Linked DNA regions of Homo sapiens: all the other regions are reported to be linked to region 2. The links are microRNA targets in miRTarBase. Many come from high-throughput screens and were not tested one by one. Region 2 holds a microRNA gene; each other region holds the end of a gene's coding sequence.

Region 1 (3,079 bases), not on the chromosome of region 2:
GAAGATGTTCCCAGGGAGAGATGGGGAGGGCCTGACAGGGGCTCCGTGGCCAAGGCAGAGGCAGGCCTGGTGCCCACAAGCCCTGAAGACTCCTGTGGCCCTCAGTGGCCCTCATCTGTTCTCTGCACGCCCCAACACAGGTGGACCTCCCCCACACGGCGATCCAGGAAGCCTCCAACAAGAAGAAATTCGAGGATGCCTTGAGCCTCATCCACAGCGCCTGGCAGCGGAGCGACAGTCTCTGCCGCGGCCGAGCCTCCCGAGACCCCTGGTGCTGAGGCAGAGCTGGTTGGCGTCCCTGGTGGGCAGGAAAGGAAGGCACGCCAGCCGGCAGGCACACTGTCACGGCTGTTGTCATGCTGTCGGGAGCCTACAGTCCACCCCTGCCCTGGGCGGCAGAACCACCGAGTGTGGCTTAAGACAGGGTCCCTCCACTCCAGGGATCCAGATCAGGTGCCCGGCACCCCTGGGCATCCTGCCCGACAGGTAGCGAATGGAGGTCGCTGGGGGCAGAGGGTCCGAGCCCTGTGGGCTCTGCGGATGCACGCCCTCCTCCCGGGCCTCCGCCTCAGTCTGCAGAATTTCTGCCGAGTGGCACCGAGAACACCATCCATCTAAGGACGAACAAAAGAACCAGGAGGGCGGGACCCCCCTCTTCCTCTCCTGGGTTGGGGGCTGGGGCCCTGAGTGCCCAGCCATCCTTGTTCGTGTTTGAACACTCTCCTGGCCACGTGGGGAAGCGGGAACACGGGGTGTCTGCGCATGTTTCCTCCTCCTAGCTCCATCACTGCGCACACAGCTGCCTGCCTCGCCAGATGCAGGGGGGCGGGCAGCCCTCCCTGGCTGCCAGGAGGCTCTGCATGCCCACAGTCCTGCCCTGCCTGTCCCCTCAACCCGGCAGTGCCTGTAGCACCGAGGAGCAAAGGGGGTGGATGGGGGGCTTGGAGAAGGGCGGAGCCCACCAGCCTGGCATCCATGTTGACATCTTCTGACTGTCCCCTGCTTGGCTGGAGCCAGGCCCTTCCCTAGAGTTTCGTCAAGAGCCTCCTGGGGAAGGGGTCAGGTGGTTTGGGTTTTGTTTTTTAAAATAAAATAGACATGTTATATTGCCAAGGCTTGTCACTGGCCCTTTTTGAGCAGGGTAGGGGAAGGGAGCTCTCCAAATCCCTTGGGCCCTTTTCTGCAAACCTTCCTCCATCATCTGCCCTGTGCCTGACACAAGGGACACACGGGACATGCAGAACCAGATCAGCCACCGCTGCCGGGCGGACTCACCGTCTGCAGACCCTCAGGCCCTGGGAGTTTCTCGGCCCGACCTTTGCCCTCCGTCCTGTTCCTGTTTGCTGCAGCAGCCAGGGGAGGAGCAGCCACCAGCTCAAGCCCCAGGGCACGTCTGCACCGCCGCCCACCATCTGCAGCCCACCCCGGGGCAGGACGCTCCTGCCTCCACAGCCCCGGGGGTGAGTGCCCAAACCCAGGAGAATCCAAGCTGTCCTCGCTGCCTCTTGCTGCGCCGTCCCCTCCAGGGCTGGCCAGAGGGTGACAACCCTGCCAGGCCGGGAGCCTGAGGCCCTCAAGCCACTCAGCATTGCTGCCTCAAGGGCCTGGGAGGGAAGGGGTGGGCCCTGGGAGGTGGGTGTGGGACTCCAACTTGGGTGGTTCTGCCTCTAGTTTGGACTGGGCCTTGGGTGACTGAGGGTGGCCTGGCAGGAGAGAGCTGTCTGGGGGCAGAGGCCAAGGTGGGCATGTTGGTACCGGCCCCAGCCTGAGCAGACACACCTGACAGCTGGCCCAGGTGGCGTTCTCTTCTCAGCGGGCACAAAGGGCATCCCAGGGCAGGCCTGGCAGCAAGTCCTTACCAGCCAAGGTCACTCCTCAAGTCCTACTCACCCAGGTGCCCTGAAGTCCTGGGAGCAGCGAGGGGGGCATAGGAGCCAGAGGCAGTGGGGGTGGGGGCGAGCAGGCGATGCGGGTGCCTTTATCGGGTGCAGCACTGACCTAGGCACACTCTTCTCATCGCCAGTCCTCCACAGAACCTTCTGGAGTGGATGTCAGTATCTCCATTTTACAAATGAGAGAAACTGAAGCTCTGAGAGGAAGTGACTTGCCCAGGGGTCACACATGAGAGCCACACCTGGGATTCCAATCAGCTCCCCAGGGCTCCAGAGCCCTTCTCTACTTCTGACCCTGCTGAGCATGGGCCTATAGACGGTGGGAGCCAGACTGAAGACTTGAGTCCTGGAAAGGGGAAGTCAGTCACCAGGGGCATATCAGGGGCAGGGTGGGGCAGGGGCGGAGTTGGCCGTGTACCCCATGCCAGGGACCTCCCAGTCACTTGCCCCCTGCCTAGGGCTCTGCCAAAGCTGGACAGGCTAAGCCAGAGGCAAGGCAGGGGTGCCAGCCCTTTGCCCAGGGCCAGAGGGAGGCCAGGAGGAGGTGCCTGGGCTGGTTGGCACCTTCTCCCTATCCACGCTCTCCCTCCAGTCCCAAGTGACCTTTCCCCCAGATCCCAGGGTCCAGGCCCGCCCTCGGCTGGCAGGTGTGGGCACAGAGGCAGCTGGGATTGGTCGCAGCTGGCGGAGGCGCGTCCCAGGCTCCGGCAGACCGCTGGAACAGCTGAGCAGAGCAGGTGGACTGCTGAGATAGACCAGGGACACCAGGCAGCCACAGGCCTGTCAGACCAGGACCCTTACCCTCTAGACATGGCCTCGGTCCCCTGCAAACCCCAGCCCCGTAGCCCTGCGAGGTTACAGACAGCCTAAACGCCACCACCACAGGGCCTGTGCCGTGCCCCTGACCCGGGCACAGAAGGCCACTGGCCCGGAGGCCATGGAGACGGTGCCCCCAGCAGTGGACCTGGTGCTGGGTGCTTCTGCCTGCTGCCTGGCCTGTGTCTTCACCAACCCCCTGGAGGTGGTGAAGACGCGGCTGCAGCTGCAGGGGGAGCTGCAGGCCCGGGGCACCTACCCACGGCCCTACCATGGCTTCATAGCCTCTGTCGCTGCTGTGGCCCGAGCAGACGGGCTGTGGGGCCTGCAGAAGGGGCTGGCTGCCGGCCTTCTGTACCAAGGCCTCATGA
Region 2 (3,079 bases):
TGATGTGCCTTAAAGCATCAGACACTTGGGCCTCGGGCATCAGGAGCCAGCCACAGGGATGTCTGGGGAAATGGCGTTCCATGAGATGCAAGCACACAAGAATGCACTTGGCACATCTGGGGAACAGCAGGCAGCTGATATCACTGGGCCCACCCCGCACCAGGGAGGATGGAAGCAGGTGAGGAGCTAGACCACACTGAGGCGGTGGTCGGGACTCGGGGTTTGCTCAGTGAGCCGTTCACTATGTGCAGGGGCAGTTCCCCGTCTGAATTTAGGTGACGACACTCAGGTCCAGCCTTGCCAGTCTCAGCCTCCGGTCTCCGTTCCCCCTCTGCAGAGGCCACATTGTCTGCTGCACGTGATCATGAGGGGTTGTGAAGTGCTTGCCCCATCAGTAGCCATGTGTGCATGTGTAAATACCATCCTCTGTGTGCCCTGGAGGCTGTCCTTCAGATAGCATGTACAGGTGGCAGCATAGGGCCTGTCCCTACTGAGAGTGCAGGGAACTCAGCACCGTCAACTCCTCGACCCTGCAGGTCAGATTATCCTTGTAGAGGCCCCCTGGATGGCACCAAGATCGGCCCTGGCAAGTAGGTGACCCTGACTTCAGAGCCCTTGCCTGAGGGCCTGGCCTGGCAGCTCTGCTGTTAGAAGCAGGAGGTGTGCAGGGGGTGGGGAGCAGCCCAGCCTCTGTGATCTTCTCCATGGCAGGATCTCCCAGCAGGTAGAGCAGAGCCGGAGCCAGGTGCAGGCCATTGGAGAGAAGGTCTCCTTGGCCCAGGCCAAGATTGAGAAGATCAAGGGCAGCAAGAAGGCCATCAAGGTAGTCCCCATACCCCTGTGTCCTGAGGCTACTGGGCAGTCCCTCCATTTCCCCGTGCCTCTGAGGCTGCCCAGTCTCTGCCCTGCTGCCCACCTGTACCTTGAGCTTTCTTCTCGCCCAGGCTTCCAACTCCACCCTCTCCTGCCAAGCAATCCTAGCCCTCTGAGCCTCTTGGGGCCCCCTCAGACTTGTCCCTGTGTCCACAGGTGTTCTCCAGTGCCAAGTACCCTGCTCCAGAGCGCCTGCAGGAATATGGCTCCATCTTCACGGGCGCCCAGGACCCTGGCCTGCAGAGACGCCCCCGCCACAGGATCCAGAGCAAGCACCGCCCCCTGGACGAGCGGGCCCTGCAGGTCTGCTGGCCGCGCATATAGCCTGTCACACACCAGGAGGACTGGATACTGGGGAGGAGCCGGGGCCACCATAGGGTTCTGTCCCCCAGAGGAGGCTGACTGGGATGGGATGGCAGCTGATTAGGCCCAGCACCAAATATTCACCATCCGTTGGCCATCCTGGCCCTCCCAGGAGAAGCTGACTTTCCTGTGTGCGTGAGCACCAAGCCGGAGCCCGAGGACGATGCAGAAGAGGGACTTGGGGGTCTTCCCAGCAACATCAGCTCTGTCAGCTCCTTGCTGCTCTTCAACACCACCGAGAACCTGTATGGCCAGAGGGCAGGGCCGAGGGGTGTGGGCGGGAGGCCCGGCCTGGCTTAGTGGGGACCCAGGGCATCAGACACAGGTACAGCACATAGGCCAGGAGCCAGGGGGTGACTGGGGTGGCTCGGCTCGGGAGGCCTGGGACCCCACAGTGCACGCTGTGCCCCTGATGATGTGGGAGAGGAACATGGGCTCAGGACAGCGGGTGTCAGCTTGCCTGACCCCCATGTCGCCTCTGTAGGTAGAAGAAGTATGTCTTCCTGGACCCCCTGGCTGGTGCTGTAACAAAGACCCATGTGATGCTGGGGGCAGAGACAGAGGAGAAGCTGTTTGATGCCCCCTTGTCCATCAGCAAGAGAGAGCAGCTGGAACAGCAGGTGGGAGGGGTGGGACAGAGGTGGAGACAGGTGCAGTGACCCAGGGCCTTGCCAGAGCTCCTCTCCAGTCAAGGCTGTTGGGCCCCTTATTCCACCCATGGGAGGTGCACACAAGGTCTTGTTGGCTGCCCCTGCAGGTCCCTGTCACCTCTCACATGTCCCTGCCTAATCTTGCAGGTCCCAGAGAACTACTTCTATGTGCCAGACCTGGGCCAGGTGCCTGAGATTGATGTTCCATCCTACCTGCCTGACCTGCCCGGCATTACCAACGACCTCATGTACATTGCTGACCTGGGCCCCGGCATTGCCCCCTCTGCCCCTGGCACCATTCCAGAACTGCCCACCTTCCACACTGAGGTAGCCGAGCCTCTCAAGGTAGGTGAGCTGGGTTCTGGGATGGGAGCTGGGCCGGGGACCTCCCTGGTCACACACCTTCTTTCCTAGACACCCCACACTTTGTGTTTCAGACCTACAAGATGGGGTACTAACACCACCCCCACCGCCCCCACCACCACCCCCAGCTCCTGAGGTGCTGGCCAGTGCACCCCCACTCCCACCCTCAACCGCGGCCCCTGTAGGCCAAGGCGCCAGGCAGGACGACAGCAGCAGCAGCGCGTCTCCTTCAGGTGGGAGCAGCTCTTTGAGGCCACCTGATTTCTGGCGTGCTCAGTGCACTCGGGTGGATTTTCTGTGGGTTTGTTAAGTGGTCAGAAATTCTCAATTTTTTGAATAGTTTCCATTTCAAATATCTTGTTCTACTTGGTTCATAAAATAGTGGCTTTCAAACTGTAGAGCTCTGGACTTCTCACTTCTAGGGCAGAGGGAGCCTGAACAAGTGAGGCTCTGGGTTCCCCATTCCTAATTAAACCAATGGAAAGAAGGGGTCTAATAACAAACTACAGCAACACATTTTTCATTTCAGCTTCACTGCTGTATCTCCCAGTGTAACCCTAGCATCCAGAAGTGGCACAAAACCCCTCTGCTGGCTCATGTGTGCAACTGAGACTGTCAGAGCATGGCTAGCTCAGGGGTCCAGCTCTGCAGGGTGGGGGCTAGAGAGGAAGCAGGGAGTATCTGCACACAGGATGCCCGCGCTCAGGTGGTTGCAGAAGTCAGTGCCCAGGCCCCCACACACCGTCTCCAAAGGTCCGGCCTCCCCAGCGCAGGGCTCCTCGTTTGAGGGGAGGTGACTTCCCTCCCAGCAGGCTCTTGGACACAGTAAG
Region 3 (3,069 bases), not on the chromosome of region 2:
GGAAAACCAGCCCTTGTCCATGGCCATGCAGTTACATCGGCCATGAAAGATAATTTTCACCTACTGCACTCACATATTCCTAGTAGAACTAGGTCCATATTTTAAAATACTTCTAAAATTATTTTTAAAATCAATGATGATTTAACAAGTGCAATTATTATTTTTTCGTCTTACAGAGTATTTCTGAAGAAATGTTTTATCAACTTAGTAACATGCTTCCCCAGATCTTCCGAGTATCATCAACACTCACTCTGACATCCAAGCACTAAACCCTTATAGATTGACATGCTGGCAGAAGATGATTGTTAAACTCTCCAGGAACTTGTGCTATGCTGGGAATCTGTCAAGCAAAAGATGCCCAGAAAGAGAACTTGCAGCTCAATCCACAAATCAAGATACATGTGTGTGAAACCATTCCAAAAATTTATATACTGCACAAACTGGTGATCAACCCCTAACTTAAACACTTAAAGTCTCTTTATGAATTTCTCTTTTTTTCTTCTCTGTGTTACCTGTGAATATTAGTAATCTAAAACTTTTTATTTATCACACATGGACACTTGGGAAAGGAAACTTGATTATATTTACATGGAGGCATTTGACTTTTTCAAGAGGCTTGACTCGTCTCAGGTGCAATCCTTAATTAAACATACAAACAAAATTTTCCTTTTACTTTCTTTGCCAAAACAAAATGTAAAAGCACTGAAATATACATTGCAAGTACAAATTTCCTGTGAAAATCTTTTTATAGAAACACAAATGTATAAGACAAATGTGCTTGTTCTTTTAAATTCTCCTGTTTCAGAATCTCTTTTTAATCTACTCCTAAGGATGTACAAGTTAGAGTCAGAAGACGTTTTGGATTTTTTCCCTCTCTCTCATCCTCCCGCTGTGCCCTTGCACTTGCATATTAATAACATTTCATGGACTGGGAAATAGTGTTCTTTTTTGCAAGCTTGATGTCAAGTTAGTCTAAACCAGCACCTGGCAGTATTTTAGTGCTCATCAACATTGTGACAATCACACAAGGAAGATCATTTCTACATTTCTGTCCTCCCTGCGTTCTCAGCTTGCTTAACCATTCCTCTACCTCTTGCATTTTTTTGCGGATAAATGTATCCCCATTTCTGCTTCTCTGTTTCCCCTCCTTTTCCATTGTTTTTCCTTATGGTACTACTTTCTCAGGTGCTACATATCATATATTTGTCCCATCTATAACATATTTAAATGCTATAAGTAGTAACTCCATTAAACAAAGGCATTTACAAAAGCACACAGGTGTTTAGAAAAGCAATAGTTTCATCAATTCCAAGTTATGTGGATATTGTAACTGGCCACAAGAATGAAATGGAGGGCATTTGGTGTCATAAGATGGCATGTCTTGATGACAAGAAACAAAACGCCCTTCATTAATATGCCTCAGTGTAATAACTATTATAGAAACTGTTGGCAAGCAGAGTGCTTTCCTATAACAGAATGTGTCTTAATTTTCTACTCGAGGGAAAGGTTTGTCCAGGTAACAACACTAAAGACAACCCTAAGAACACCCACTCCAGCAGTATGTCCATTAGACACTAAAACTCTCCAAATTATTTGTCAGGGAGCCTGGCGATTCTGCCAAGAAGGCAGGTGTTTTGCCCTTAGAGCCTATACAGTTCTCTTGGAGAAATTGTCTTTCAGGCACCACTGTTAATCACTGAGACTGATTCTAATGCAAAGCAGGGAAGACAGAGGCAGAAACCAGGAGAGTGGTAGATCAGTGCAGCCCAGATATCGGAATGGAGGAGCAAAGTTTCATTCACGGATGTTTGTTGAATGCTGCTGCCCAACTCTTCCTTTGTCACCTCTAGGCTATTCCACTAAGTTACTTATAAACTGGTGGCTTTAACTGAGGGCTGTGTAAAGGTACTATTTGGCATGTGAAGTCAGGATAAATTTATCGAATGTCCGTTTTCCACATGCAACTGTGTTACAGAAGTAGTAAAATTGGAAGAATCATGTTTATGGTGTTACCACTGATGGAAACACACAAACACCAAGCTAATAATAAATATATAACTTAAAAAGCTAATTATATGCACTGAAATGGTGGGAATTTTAGTGATGCAGTAATTGAGGAGTCTGGAGTTTTGTATTTGGACCAAGAATTATGAGATGAGGATCTTTTTCTGAGTGTTCTAAAGGGCTTCTTGAGGGGGAGTGGTTTAAAGCACTTCATGAATGATGTGAAGAAGGTACCTTGGGCTGAGACAGCATTCTAGGTACAGATGGCACTCTGTTCAACCAACTGTGGATGGAAAATATTCTGAAAAAAAATACAATAAAAATTTTAAAAATACAATATAACATCTGTTTACATGGCATTTACATTGTATTTGGTATAAGTAATGTATAGACGGATTAAGTATATGGGAGGCTGTGTGTAGGTTGTATGCAATTACTACACCACTTTATATGAGACTGGAGCATCCAGGGATATTGATATTGGCAGGGGGTCTGGAACCAGTCTCCTGCAGATACCAAGGGACAACTGAGTAAGGCGCAGATAGGAGCAGAAGCAGAATGGAGGCAGTGGTAAATGGCCAGTAAGTTGAGAGGAGCTGACCACGAGAGTCTTTGAGGATGGGGAGATTAGCACAAACATTGACATTGGTGAGGATTGTGAGTTAGAAGTTTTCTATTTGTATAAACAGTTACATATTCCTAAATGGCCCTCAAGGCCTTAAGAGTGTGCTTTGGAAATCAGGCAGAGGCACTGAACCTGAGGTCTCCATTCTGTGCTGCTCTTTCCCCCCCTTCCCCCATTTCTGCTCTCGAAGCACCACACAAGCAAAGCCATTGATCTAGAAGTGTGGCACCAGCTGTTTCTCAGCATGACAGTGTGACCAGAATGGAAGAAATGCATGAAAAAGAATTTCAGCGGGAAGAAACTGAGCTTGCCTGGGAGTTGGCAGATCTCTTATTGGCACAGTACACACCATCATTTGTGTTACTTCAGTTGGATCCTGGCTAATTCTCACAAGAAGAAAACATGTTTCACAAAAGAAAGATGAAATCACAGAAACATTT
Region 4 (3,069 bases), not on the chromosome of region 2:
TTGCCACCTTCCATTCTCCATTGAGGAGCCAGTTATTGATCTTGGCCCATTTCTCAAAGTTGCTGCACTCAAATTCCATCCTCAGCACAGACAGACTCCCCAGCCACATCCTCCCCCAGGGGAATGGCCCAGTCCCTCTTCCTGGGCTTGTTGATGGAGGCCCTACCTCACACCTGCCCCCCTCCCAATAGGAGCCAGTACCCAAGTCTGGGGAAGTACCATGTTGAGGATGGGGATTCTTCTCTGTGCTCCCTGCCTGCTCAGCCCTGCTGTGAGCACCCAGAGGGTAGACCTAGTCTGGTTCACCAAGTGCCCAGTTCAGGGCCTGGCACAGGGCAGGTGTCAGTTAAGTGCAGGCTGCACAGCCGGAGTTGCCATGTTGCTTGCAAGCCAGAAAGTATGCCCGGCATCCTCCTCCTCTCCAGAAGAACCAGACTAATGATGAGTCGGAGTCAGCAGATCAATGCGGTGGGGAGCAGGAACAAGGCACAGAATGTGCCTGTGTCTTTCAGTGCAGTGGCTGGGAGGCTGCCCCTTTCAGGAAAGGTGGGGTTGCAGGGGCCACCATGGGAGCCTGGGCAACAGGCCCCTCTCCCCACACCTTTCCCTGAAGCCCTATGTCCCCACCCAGATGCCAGGCCTGACCACGAGGTGGTGTGCAGGGCTGGATCAGGGCCACCCCAGCACAGGACCTGAGGTTAGGGCTGAGTACGGCCCTATTTCTCATGCAAGCAAGTCACTTAACCTGTTCTTGTAACAGAGGACTAGACATTCCCACCCTGTTTACCTTTCAGGGGATACTGGGAGGAAGACACGAGAAGGTTCTGGGAAGTGCTCAGTGTCACAGCAGTATAAGGCTTCAATGTCTGCCTATGTGGGTGAGGGATGAGGGTGGTGACCCCTGCCACCTAGCTCCAGGCTAGATGTCCTATGTGAGAACTCTGTGTGTACACCTGGCAGGCTGGGTGACCCCTCCCTACCCTTATTTTACTGAAGCATCATTAATGCCTCTCGAGGCCATCTTGGAAGTCACAGCAGAGACTTCCAAGAATCCTCCCAAACTGTGAGACACAGCTGGACAGGGTAGGGGAAGGTGACAGTCATCTTTTCACTGGGTTAAATACAAGTAGTCCAAAAAAGATCCAAAATAAAAAATGCAATTTTTATTTGTTGAACATAATTTGAAACTGTAAAAAGATTTCTCTGTCCATCACCAGAAATCCAGAAGACACCTGAAGAGGACTGACTGTTTCTTTGCCACGGGGAAGGTGTGATGAAACAATTAAAATCCCATGCATCCCTGGCCCTTCCTCCACGTTGCCCCTCAGAATGCCTGCAGCTGCAGCAGGCAGGAGGCAGCAGGAGAACCCGGGCTGTGGAAGGCCCCTCTGCCTCTCTGGGAAAGCTGCTGGGGAAGCCAGAGGTCACAGTGCATTGGAGGCCTGGCTTTCAGCCACTGGCCAGGCCAAAATGAAACATCTGCTCAAGTCTCCCCAGGCACCTTGCTGGGGGTGAGTGGGAGAAAGAAGTGGAGAAAACTGATGCTGGACCACAAGTTATCACCCTGTACCTTGGCTTTGAAGTGGCCCCTGCTGGTACAGGAGCAGGGTGAGAGTAAAAGTAAATAAATAAAAGCAACATGCTTCAAGGAGAGAGGGTGACAGACCCACTGAAGCACCCCGTGTCCTGGCTCGACCAGGGATAAGCCAGGGCGTGATGATTTAAAACACTCTGATCTGAGGCCAATGGCATCAAAATACAAATTGCTGAAGTGGGAGAGGAAGTGAAGGGCTGTTTGTTAGGGGGACTACAGTGGAGATTCTGGTGAGTGTGGGTGGGCTCGCCAGTGACCCCAATATTTTCTTTGTGTAACAACCAGAGTAAGCATTAGGATGCCCAGGCTGCCCTCTACTGGCAGTTTCTGGGAAGGACCACAACAGCAGCACCCAACCTGCAACCCACAACAGCCGAGACAGGAGAGAGAGAAGAAAGCAAGAGAGAGAGAGGAGAGGAAGAGAGAGAGGAGAGGAAGAGATAGAGGAGGGGAAGAGATAGAGGACAGGAAGAGAGAGAGGAGGGGAAGAGAGACAGGAAGGGAAGAGAGAGGAGAGGAAGAGAGAGAGGAGAGGAAGAGAGAGGAGGGGAGGAGAGACAGGAGGGGTAGAGAGAGGAGAGGAAGAGAGAGGAGAGGAAGAGAGGAGGGGAGGAGAGACAGGAGGGGAAGAGAGAGAAGAGGAAGAGAGAGAGGAGAGGAAGAGAGAAGAGAGGAAGAGAGGAGAGGAAGAGAGACAGAGGAGAGAAAGAGAGGAGAAGAGAGAGAAAGAAGAGGAAGAGAAAGAGAGAGAGAGAATATCAGCACTCAGGGAGGATGAGGAGTGGCTACACCTCCTGCCAGGTTGAAGGCATGGCTGGGGCCTCCTACTGGGAGGCTAGAAGCATCTCCATCGATTTTAGCAGGTTCCTCCATCTCAGCCTGGTCTGCAGAGGGCCCTGGAGGAGGAAGGCCTCTGGTGCTCACTTCAAAGGCATCGAGAAGAACTTGTTCCCAGACTTGCAGCGGACTTGCTCAGTGTGCACGCGCAGCAGCACCTCAGCATCTTCAAACCCATCCACGATTGCCTTAAAACAGCAGCCAGGGGAGGACAGTCACATTAAGGGGCATCTGGGACCCACAGGGCACTGCAAACAAAACCAGCTCACCCAACTTCAGAGGCTGGGCGAGGCTGAGGCTGCAGGCTCCAGGCTCTGCATTGGTGATCTTGTCTGATCACTTCTGTAATCTCTGAGGTTGGTCCTATCATCTCAACTTTACAGATGAGGACACAGATGCTCAGAGCCCTGGATCACAGAAACCAATAAAACCAGGCCTGGGACCCAGGTCTGCCGGAGCCCAAACTAGAGCTCTTTGCCACCTCCAGCAACATCAGGCCAAGCGCAAGGTGGCTCCTTAACGAGGGACCACAGCTGCATCCAGCCTGCACGTTTGGTTTGGTTGCAAAATGTTTTTTAAACATCCAAATTAGTTGCTGACATTTGAAAACTGACAGATTACATGTAAAAATCTAGGTT
Region 5 (3,079 bases), not on the chromosome of region 2:
ATATTGATACTTTTAACAAATTTAAGCTAATCTTTGGCTTTGCTTACCATCATGGACATCTTATTCCTTCATAAACAGAATTAGATCAAATTAAAATTCTTCTTAAAAGAATCATTCAGCAAGTAGGTGCCTACTGTTGTTTGGCACAGTAGGGGATTAAAATGTTGAAAAAAAATACCCTTATGTTTTTTCACAGACATTTATTATGTTAAATGTCTTTCTCCTTAGGTTTACTCCTGATGGGAAGTACTTGATTGTGGCCCAGCTGAATCTTAGCAGGCTCTCAGTCGTAGCAGCACCCCCAGTGGGAAGCATTGGGGAGTGTTCTGTGATCAGCACAATCCAACTAGCAGATCAAGTTTTGCCACATCTCCTAGAAGTCGACAGAAAGACTGGAGCAGTCTATGTAGCAGAAATTGGAGCAAAACAAGTACAAAAATATGTCCCTTTGAATAGCTATGTTCCTTCATTTGGTTCATAATGTTTCTTTCCTGGGAATATTTCAAGTGGCAGTTCAGATTCTCAATTCACTAAGTGCTTAAAAATGATGTTCAAGCACAAGAATTTATTTTTCTAGTATAAAAGATCTAGTATCAGAAAGATTTGTTTTTGTATCATTAAGAATCTTATATTTTGTTGCCCTCTTGGGACTTAGTTTTATTTGTAAGTGCATAAGGATATTTTAATGAAAGGAAAGTAACTAAAAAATGGGGTTGGGAAGAGGGACTAAGGTGGTAACCTCATTATTTGCCCTGGTAGACTGATTCTCCCTGGGTAAAAAAAATGGGAATAAAAATGAGCTTGCATGATAATTTATTAAATTTCATGTGAAGAACTCCAGACCTCCAGATTGTGCAACTAACATAAAATGAGCTGCTTGAGAGATTGTAAATAAGATGAACTATTGATTAATTTGAGTACCCACAGAGTGCTGTGTCTTGACGACTTAAAAATGAAAAAGCAGGATTGCCTTTTGAGTAGCTTGCAGTCTAGTGGGGAGACAAGCAGGCAAACAGTCACAACACAGCAAAAGCGACCTTGGAGCATAGTGGGACTTTTGGAGTAGGAGTGCTGCATTTGACTGAGGGAATCATGGATACTTCGCAGGAGAAGTGAATTTGAGCTCAGACTTGAAAACTGAGGAGGAGCTTACCAAGGGACAAGGAGGAGAAAACAATAATTTCCAAGTAAAGAAGGTATAAAAAGTTAGAAGTGTACTGTAAACTTTGATAGGCTTTTAGGCCTTTTTTAAAGCCCAACTTGGCTTCTGTCCATTACCTATAAGATATTTAATGTCAGTCAGCCTTTAAATGTAGGAATAAAATGGCTGGCATCTAAGCACTTTAGTAAAAGAGGTTTTTACAAATAACTAAGGATTGTAGAGCTTCCTTCTCTTTTTTTTTCTTTTTCTTTCTTTTGTTTTACATGAACTCAACTTATTCCTAACATTTGTCTACCTCAAAGAAATTTCAAGATTATTTAGATAACATGGATATGTGCCAAATCCTTTGAGCTGTTAAGATGATAATTTCCTGCTTTCCTCCTACATCTTCTCCTCCCACTCCCTCCTTTGGTGTGAATATTGGCTTCCCAATTAAGACCTTTTTTTTTTTTTTTCCAGTTTGTTTTAGCTTATTATAGGTTTTGGAGGAACTTTGCCATTTTGTAATCTTTCAAATCATTCTTCACCCTTCCTCACATCAGCTTCCTGCTTTTCCCAGTGTTTTACTGTAAATTGTGTAGCATATGACAAATCTTGAGCTGACTTTCCTCTTCACCTGTTATGGCTGGAGTATTTTCCAGACCTGAAGGGACTCACACTTGTTTTGATACTTGGATCACATCTCCGTGAGGTTAGGAAGGTAAATCTACCAACAGGAAGCCCTGTACTCTGTATTCCAAGGCCATTGGTAAATGTGTTGGTGCCACTGATCGGACTGTATGACCTTAAACAAGTCACCTTAGTTTTCAGTGAAATGGGAATATCATTGTCTCCTCTTTCATGAATGCTGTGAGAATCAGATGTGCAACAGGTACAGACTTGCCCTTTGAAATCTATACCTCTGGATACATTAGAGGCATTTTATTAACAAAGGCCCTTCTAAATGTGCTATTTATTTGACAATAACTATCAGATTTGCCTTAATTTTGTGTTTATAGCATTTATCAAAACGTATCCTCATAGACTTTATGCAGATTAATATGGTCAATTGATTTGGATAAAAGAAAGTAATTTCAGGGTTTGTTTTTAAGCCAGGACAAGAAGTGCAAATGCCTCTTTGAAGCAATTTAGGCTAAACTGATTTTGAAATTTCAAAATGTTTTATTTTACTTTGTTTTATTAAGCCAGGACAAGAAGTGCAAATGCCTCTTTGAAGCAATTCAGGCTAGGTAAACCGATTTTGCCATTTCAAAACGTTTTATTTTACTTTGTTTTATATCAGAGTCTTATAAAACCTGCTGCAAATATTTCTGAATGTCTTTGTAAAAGTGTTTGTTAGTGTACCTGTGATTATAGTACTTCACTTTTTTCCTTTGGATTAATTGGTTAAATGAATGAGAAATGTGTTATGTTTTTTACTAAAAAGTATAAATTAAAATTTTGGAAAGAAAAGGCAATATTATCTGGCTCCCCAATTAAAGTTTGATTTTATTGTCACAAAAGCAGTCTATAACTTTTTATTCCTTTAAAGAATTTCAGCAATTATGAAATCACAAGTTGATGCTGAAAGAATATCCCACTTTTCACACATATAGCGTGTAAGCTGATGTGCATAAATATGACTAGAAGTTGCTTAGAACATTTAAAGAATGTAGCTTGTTTTGAGGTGGTGGGAGGGTACAACTGACAGTAATAACTAGCTAATTGTCTACATTTCTGCATTAAAAGTGGAACATCTTTATACTTCTACTTTTTAGGTCTATTCTTGGAGTGGGGAGGGGAGAAAGTGTTCTAAATTAGAAAACCAAAGGCTATAGATTTAGCTCTATCTTTCCCTACCTGTACCATCAGATTGGGTCTTTCAAGTGGAATATTTATCGATCAGAGAAAACTTGGATGAAATCTGATGGTGAACAG
Region 6 (3,079 bases), not on the chromosome of region 2:
CTGGTGACAGTGCCAGACTCCATCTCAAAACAAAACAAACAAAAAAAACCTGAAAGAAACAAAATGCCGCAACAAACATCCCTATCCTTATAGGGATAAAATCGGAATAATAAATTATCGTCATCACTGGAGACCAGCATGAGATCCTCTGAGGCAGTGGGAATTTTACTGGTTAGGTTCATCACCTTGTCATGATGACACGAGAATGGGCCCAGAAAAAGGTTTGGGAAACTCTCCAGAAACTGAGTGAGGTTCCTTGGTTTGGCTGCCTCGTCTGTTTCTGAAATTACACGTTTTCAAAACTCAACTAATTTCCCCTGTCATCTTCCCCATTCCTCAGATGATGCCTCATCATTCTGTGACTGCTTCCGATAGCTCCTTTGCCAGGACATTTGCCAAGTCTTGCTAATCTTGCCTCTTCTGCTCCCTCCTATCATGGCTTTGATCAAGCAGGCCCCGTATCATCTGGGGTTGCATGCCCTGAACTATTGGGTTCCCTGCATCCAATCCTTCACAATGCTGTCAGGTCTAGAAGCATAACCCTACTCCCCGCACCCTCCTATTCAAATACCTTCAATGTTACCCAGTGCTTACAGGATAAAGGTCAAATTCCTCTTCCTGGTATCCATGGCCCTCTATGACACAATCCATTTTGTTAAACTCTAACTCTCCAGTATCAAACTCCACGTTTCCTGGGCACAGTACCCTGTGCTTTCCCAACTCCATGAAAGCCATGCTCACAGGCTTTCAATAGGAATGCGTCCCACCCTACATCCCCAAAAGGTTCAGCTTAAGTGCTACCTCTGATCCCAGATGAAGTTCTGACTCTGTTCTCTGAATATCCACTTTGCCTTCATCACTAGCAACTAGATCACAAACTCCAGGAGGGCAAGAGACACTCTACTTTCGTATTTCCAATGCATTCGAAGATTTTGGTCTATAGGAAGCAACAGGACAGTTGTTTTAAGCCTAGGGACAGCCCCCAACAAATTCACAGGCAGCAGTCAAGTGAATCTCCTTTCCCAAGATTTTGCTGCAGCATGTAATGAAAGCCCTCAAGCATCCTCCCTGCTGTGATGCCCCTCAACAGTCCCTCAAGGGCTGAGACCAGATTGGAACCACTGTACTTCTGGTACCTCCTAGAGAGCTAGGCCAAACAAGCAGTGGAAGAATAATTAGGACAAAAGTTATCCAGTAGGCCAGGCGCGGTGGCTCATGTCCGTAATCCCAACACTTTGGGAGGCTGAGGTGGGCAGATCACCTCAGGTCAGGAGTTCGAGACCAGCCTGACCAATATGATGAAACCCCGTCTCTACTAAAAATACAAAAATTAGCCGGAAGTGGTGGCATGTACCTATGATCCCAACTACTTGGGAGGCTGACAGGAGAATCACTTGAACCTGGTTGGTGGAGACTGTAGTGAGCTGAGACTGCACCACTGCACTCCAGCCTGGGCAACAAGAGCAAAACTGTCTCAGGAAAAAAAAAAAAAAAAAAGTCCAGTATAGTTTTTTCCCCCTGGTTTTTGATTAGTTCAGATCTTAATGTGATGAGATCATGATACCGCAGATTCATGGCAATTTCGACAAACAGCACAGAACTCTATATTCATGAACAACTCATCTGGTAATGCTCCAAGTTTCCAAACTGATTCATTCTTCATCAGCCTGGCCATACGTTTCTTAAGAGAAAGGATGATAAATTCCTCGGAAACCTGCCTTTATTCTGTTGGTGAGAAAAATCCTTTAGGAACGTGTTGGTTCCCTAAGATGGGTGATCCCAAGGAACAAAACAGTCATTACACATGAACTTTTTTTTTTTTTTTTTTTGAGACGGAGTCTCGCTCTGTCGCCCAGGCTGGAGTACAGTGGCGTGATCTCAGCTCACTGTAACCTCCACCCCTCGGGGTTCAAGCGATTCTCCTGCCTCATTCTCCTGAGTAGCTGGGATTACTGGCGTGTACCACCATGCCTGGCTAATTTTTGTATTTTCAGTAGAGACGGGGTTTCACCATGTTGGTCAGGCTGGTCTCGAACTCCTGACATTGTGATCCGTCTGCCTAAGCCTCACAAACTGTTGGGATTACGGGCGTGAGCCACCGTGCCCGGCCTACACATGAACTTTTTATGCTAAGAAAAGACATATCAAGATATATCAGAAAGTACAACTTCAATTCAAACACCATGAAATTTTGTCAAGCAAAAATAGTCTTTATTCAAATTTAATGGAAACAGGGGTCACTATACTTTGCAAGACGGGGAAAAATAAAATTAAAAAAAATTCTTTTCTTTTCTTTTTTAATATAAAACAATATAATCACAATACCAGAATATGGAACTCTACAGTTTATTTCCTATGGGTTACTGCAGGTATCAATTTTCCTCGACTGTGCTATTCACAACTTTGTTAAGTCCAAAAATATGAAACCAAAGTGGTAGGAAACTTAAGACTTAGCACTTTCACTAAATGGCATACATCGAAGGGCATCAATTCAAGAGCAAAAATGGTTGAACTCACCATACCTACCTATGTGGTCATTCCAGCCTTAGAGCCGTCCAGGTTACTGAGCTCCCTGTAGGAAAGGCCAGGCCTGAAAGCCAAGGCGTTTTGGATATTCTACTGTGGGCCATGAGTAAAAGGGGATTTTCAAAGAGAAAATTTTTTTCAGTCGAGCAGGAAGGCCTGGTGCCAGGAGGCTTTACTGAGAGGAAGCACTTAGATTTAACAATTATAGACACACCATTAGGGGAGTTAAAAATGTACAGCAGTGACATGTTCTACTCCAATCACTTGTGCTACGGCTACCAAACATGTACAAAAGACTTCTCGGGTAGTTCCAGCTGTGGCCATAGCCAGTTAGGACCTTGAGTGGGACCTAGATCTAGATCGGGAGGGCGATCTGGAAGCAGACCTGGATCTAGACTTGGACCGAGATCGGGTTTTTGAAGCTGACTTTGATCTGGAGCGTGATTCTGATGGAAGGTTTGGTTTCGATTTGGAATTGGATCTCGACCTGGACCGGGTCTCCTGATTGGTGCCAGCATTCTCACTCTCTCCTCGACCTTCCCTCTGGCTGGAT
Region 7 (3,079 bases), not on the chromosome of region 2:
ACGGTCACTGTGGCCTATCTGATGCAGAAGATGAACCTGTCACTCAACGACGCCTACGACTTTGTCAAGAGGAAAAAGTCCAACATCTCGCCCAACTTCAACTTCATGGGGCAGCTGCTGGACTTTGAGCGGACGCTGGGGCTAAGCAGCCCGTGCGACAACCACGCGTCGAGTGAGCAGCTCTACTTTTCCACGCCCACCAACCACAACCTGTTCCCACTCAATACGCTGGAGTCCACGTGAGGCCTGGTGCACGGGGGGCATGGCACCAGGCCCCTGCTCGGCTCTCCACAGGGCTAGGTGGGAGAGCCCAAGCCCGCCACCTCTGGCCTGAGGAACCCCCAGATGTCACCTGTGCCCAGAGGCCCAGGCTGATCGGTGTCGGAGCGCCCCTCACCATCCTTGGGGGCAGGGCCCGCAGGCAAGGTCTCCCACTGCAGGGCTTGCTGGAGAGGCCTCGGCTCTTGGACACGTGGCTTTGGGCGTCCACCAGGGCCTCATCCTGTCCAGGACGCTCCTTTCTGCTGACAGCCCAGCCAGTTTGGCTGTTTTTTAAAGACACATCCACGGACCTGAGTTTACTTTTTACTTTTGGCAGGTAAATCCAAGCTCCCTGGAGCACAAAGAGTGTTTGAGCTCTTCTTGATTTTTCTTTTTTTTTTTTTTTTTTAACAAAAAGTGTTATTTTCAGGCTACATGCAACAGTGGATTGTATAACCCAGTATTTCATCCCTTTCCTGATCCTGCAAGAGAGAGAAATGTTCAGTTTTGTTTTTCGTTCAATTTCAAAAAGCAAGTATCGTGTTTGTTTTTGTTTTTGTTTTTTAATGGAAAAGACAGACGCCATGTTGACCTTGACCAAATGCGTTTTGCACATGTGTGAAGCCTCTGTTTCCTCAGCGGGCCCTTCTTGAAGGGGTGGCTTACTGCTCTTCAGGTATTGGGACCCCCAGTCGTGCCGCCTCCCACCCTTGGCCCAGTCTGACTTAGCTCTGCATTCGCCTGTGATGACTGCTGCAAGTTGTGATTGGTGGGCTGGATGGTGGTCTTTGCATTTTCTGCCGTCTCATCCATCCCTCTGGTGGTCCCTGCAGACCTCCCTGAGGCAGAAGGTGGGGACCCTGGGGCCCTGCCGCTGTCCCCCAGGAGGTGGGCCGCAGGGGGCTGCCAGGCAGTAGCATTAGCCCTCTGGGGTCAGCCCCTAAGAAGGCCTGGGCTCTGAGCCCTTTTATATACTTAGCCACTACTTCTGTCTGTCTGTCTGTCTCTCTCTCTTCCTCTCCCTCTCTCTCTTTCTCTCTCTCCCTCTCTCTCTCTTTCTTTCTCTCTCCCCCCCTCCCTCTCTCTTCCTTTCCTCTCTCTTGTTGTAACTGGGAGTGGAGGCCCAGTGGCTGGGGAGACATTAGGTGGTGGGGCCCAGCCCGACCTCCAGGTTCTTCCTTCTCCCTAGCTGTTGCTTTGGTCTGGCCACTCCCAGCCCCCTTGTCCCCTTGGAAGCTTGCCCTGCCCTCATCTTGCCCATGCCTTCTACTGCCAGGAGACTTGCACCCATTTCAACCCTAGGGCGGGGGCAAGTGGGGCAAGGATGGACCAGCAGAAGGGGGGTAAGGCTCTGTTCACTTCCCCCTGCCTCCACAGAACGAAGCCACGGATTCCGTTATCTTCCTCCAGTTTTGTTCCTTCTCCAGCCTCAGTTCCACCAGGTGTCAGGACTGCATGGGGGCCTGGGGCAGGCAGAGGAGTCAGGCCAGGGTCCCTGACGGAGCAGCACTCAGCATGTGAGTGAGGCCACAGAAAAACTCTGCCCCACTGCTTCTTACCTCACGGGGGTGGCTTTCAGGGATTCTTTAGCGCAGCAGATTAAAATCTTGCCACAGTCGAGAAATTGACAACAAGCTTCCATGCTGTACATGGTTCTCTTTTTCTCTCTTTTATTTTTAAAAAGAAAACCCAGAAAGATGTACCAGATTTGTGTAAATGAGGGTATGCCAGAAGGTGGCCAGTTTTGCTTTATGATCTTATGAAGGAAGATTTGTGACCCTACGTATATATATACACACACATACATATATATATATATCCCGAACCAACAACGGGACTTTGTTTATATTGCAAATAAATATTATTTTTTCTTTAAAATGAGTCGTGTCCGATAAGGGCTTGGGGCCTGGGAAGGAGGGGAAGGAGTGCTGTCGACAGGCATCCTAGTGCCTGCTCTGTGTGAGGCACTGGCCTGGTTCTGCTTGGGGTCTGCTGGCCACTTAGACTAATCAAGGTGCCCCGCAGATGGGAGGGAGCAGCCACAGTTTCTGGATGAAGCTGGGGCAGGTGGCATTTCCCCAGCCCTTAGGCACTGGCAGGCAGAGGCATCAGGGCTTTCTCTGTGGGCTTCTGCTGAAATCAAGGCTTGGAGAGGTTGTATATACCAAGTTGACACAACTGAGTCCTGACTCGCCCTTCATTGTCTGAGGCTGTCTGCTTAGGCATTGCCCAGATTGCAGCCCCCAGGACCCTAACTCTTTCTCTTGCTGCCGTGTGGGTGAGAGGGGAATGTGCATTTAACCCTGCCCCTGCAGGTCCTGAGATATCAGTGGGTAGTGACAGGTCAGCCCTTCTTTGCTTCTTAAGGGCTGGGTGGCCTTGGACAGGTCCCTTAGGCCGATTGCACCTGGTTCCTGAGTGCTTTTCAGCTTTGTGGCATGAAGAGCACATTATTGGCCTGGGCTCACAGGGAGGAATCAGCCGTGCTCAGGCGTGTACAAGGAAGGGTGGGCATGGGCCTCTGTCAAGGCTCCCCTGGGGGTGGGGGTCTAAGCGAGGCCCTGGGCTAGAGCAGGGAGGAGGTCTGGAGAAGGATGGGGGCCACAGTCTGGGGAAGTGAGGCCCCAGTGGACAACAAGCCCCGAGTTACAGATCAGGAAATGGAGGCTCCAGAGTGGCTTAGGTCTCCCTTGCCTCTGGCTGGATCAGGTGAGCCCCAGTCAAGGACTTAAGAGGCCTGGAAGCTGACTCAGTTTCCCCATTTCTGACATTCCCCAGCTCTATCCCTTCAGCAAACTGTGTGATCAGCACTGAGCTG

Evidence for each region. The annotated mature microRNA hsa-miR-6859-5p reads GAGAGGAACAUGGGCUCAGGACA and lies in region 2 at 1,658-1,680, shown strand. An mRNA with a match to its seed (bases 2 to 7 or 8) in the 3' UTR can be bound and repressed. Matches are read on the target gene's strand: a 7mer-m8 pairs with bases 2 to 8, a 7mer-A1 pairs with bases 2 to 7 and ends in A, and an 8mer does both.
Region 1: miRTarBase lists PLEKHM2 as a target of hsa-miR-6859-5p. Seed matches in the 3' UTR shown: 7mer-m8 at 656-662.
Region 3: miRTarBase lists FERRY3 as a target of hsa-miR-6859-5p. Seed matches in the 3' UTR shown: 8mer at 1,082-1,089.
Region 4: the mRNA of USB1 is a reported target of hsa-miR-6859-5p. Seed matches in the 3' UTR shown: 7mer-m8 at 2,325-2,331, 7mer-m8 at 2,277-2,283, 7mer-m8 at 2,264-2,270, 7mer-m8 at 2,249-2,255, 7mer-m8 at 2,232-2,238, 7mer-m8 at 2,187-2,193 and 8 more.
Region 5: the mRNA of NHLRC3 is a reported target of hsa-miR-6859-5p. Seed matches in the 3' UTR shown: 7mer-m8 at 1,768-1,774.
Region 6: the mRNA of SRSF4 is a reported target of hsa-miR-6859-5p. Seed matches in the 3' UTR shown: 7mer-m8 at 2,705-2,711.
Region 7: miRTarBase lists DUSP7 as a target of hsa-miR-6859-5p. Seed matches in the 3' UTR shown: 7mer-m8 at 1,275-1,281 and 7mer-m8 at 1,352-1,358.

Annotation. Positions count from the first base shown.
Region 1 is chr1:15,733,657-15,736,735 of GRCh38, forward strand. PLEKHM2 (pleckstrin homology and RUN domain containing M2) reads left to right here. Exons shown (of 20, transcript NM_015164.4): 20 at 141-1,113. The coding sequence ends at 278. SLC25A34 (solute carrier family 25 member 34) reads left to right here and starts at 2,602. Exons shown (of 5, transcript NM_207348.3): 1 at 2,602-3,079. The coding sequence starts at 2,830. RefSeq lists enhancers at 936-1,701, 1,702-2,468.
Region 2 is chr15:101,971,872-101,974,950 of GRCh38, forward strand. MIR6859-3 (microRNA 6859-3) reads left to right here and starts at 1,653; the gene lies at 1,653-1,720. It also overlaps the pseudogene WASH3P. RefSeq lists an enhancer at 2,734-3,079.
Region 3 is chr12:4,487,007-4,490,075 of GRCh38, reverse strand. FERRY3 (FERRY endosomal RAB5 effector complex subunit 3) reads left to right here. Exons shown (of 14, transcript NM_020374.4): 14 at 177-2,341. The coding sequence ends at 269. Among named protein-coding and RNA genes, the nearest start is that of FGF6, 43 kb to the right of the region's middle.
Region 4 is chr16:58,019,691-58,022,759 of GRCh38, reverse strand. USB1 (U6 snRNA biogenesis phosphodiesterase 1) reads right to left here. Exons shown (of 7, transcript NM_024598.4): 7 at 1,142-2,619. The coding sequence ends at 2,515. Among named protein-coding and RNA genes, the nearest start is that of MMP15, 4.5 kb to the left of the region's middle.
Region 5 is chr13:39,047,446-39,050,524 of GRCh38, forward strand. It overlaps NHLRC3 (NHL repeat containing 3), which reads left to right. Exons shown (of 7, transcript NM_001012754.4): 7 at 229-2,664. The coding sequence ends at 481. Among named protein-coding and RNA genes, the nearest start is that of NHLRC3, 11 kb to the left of the region's middle.
Region 6 is chr1:29,145,554-29,148,632 of GRCh38, forward strand. It overlaps SRSF4 (serine and arginine rich splicing factor 4), which reads right to left. Exons shown (of 6, transcript NM_005626.5): 6 at 2,190-3,079. The coding sequence ends at 2,857. Among named protein-coding and RNA genes, the nearest start is that of TMEM200B, 23 kb to the left of the region's middle.
Region 7 is chr3:52,047,979-52,051,057 of GRCh38, reverse strand. DUSP7 (dual specificity phosphatase 7) reads left to right here. Exons shown (of 3, transcript NM_001947.4): 3 at 1-2,139. The coding sequence ends at 243. It overlaps LOC124906238 (a long non-coding RNA gene), which reads right to left. Exons shown (of 2, transcript XR_007095908.1): 2 at 2,100-3,079. Among named protein-coding and RNA genes, the nearest start is that of DUSP7, 7.1 kb to the left of the region's middle.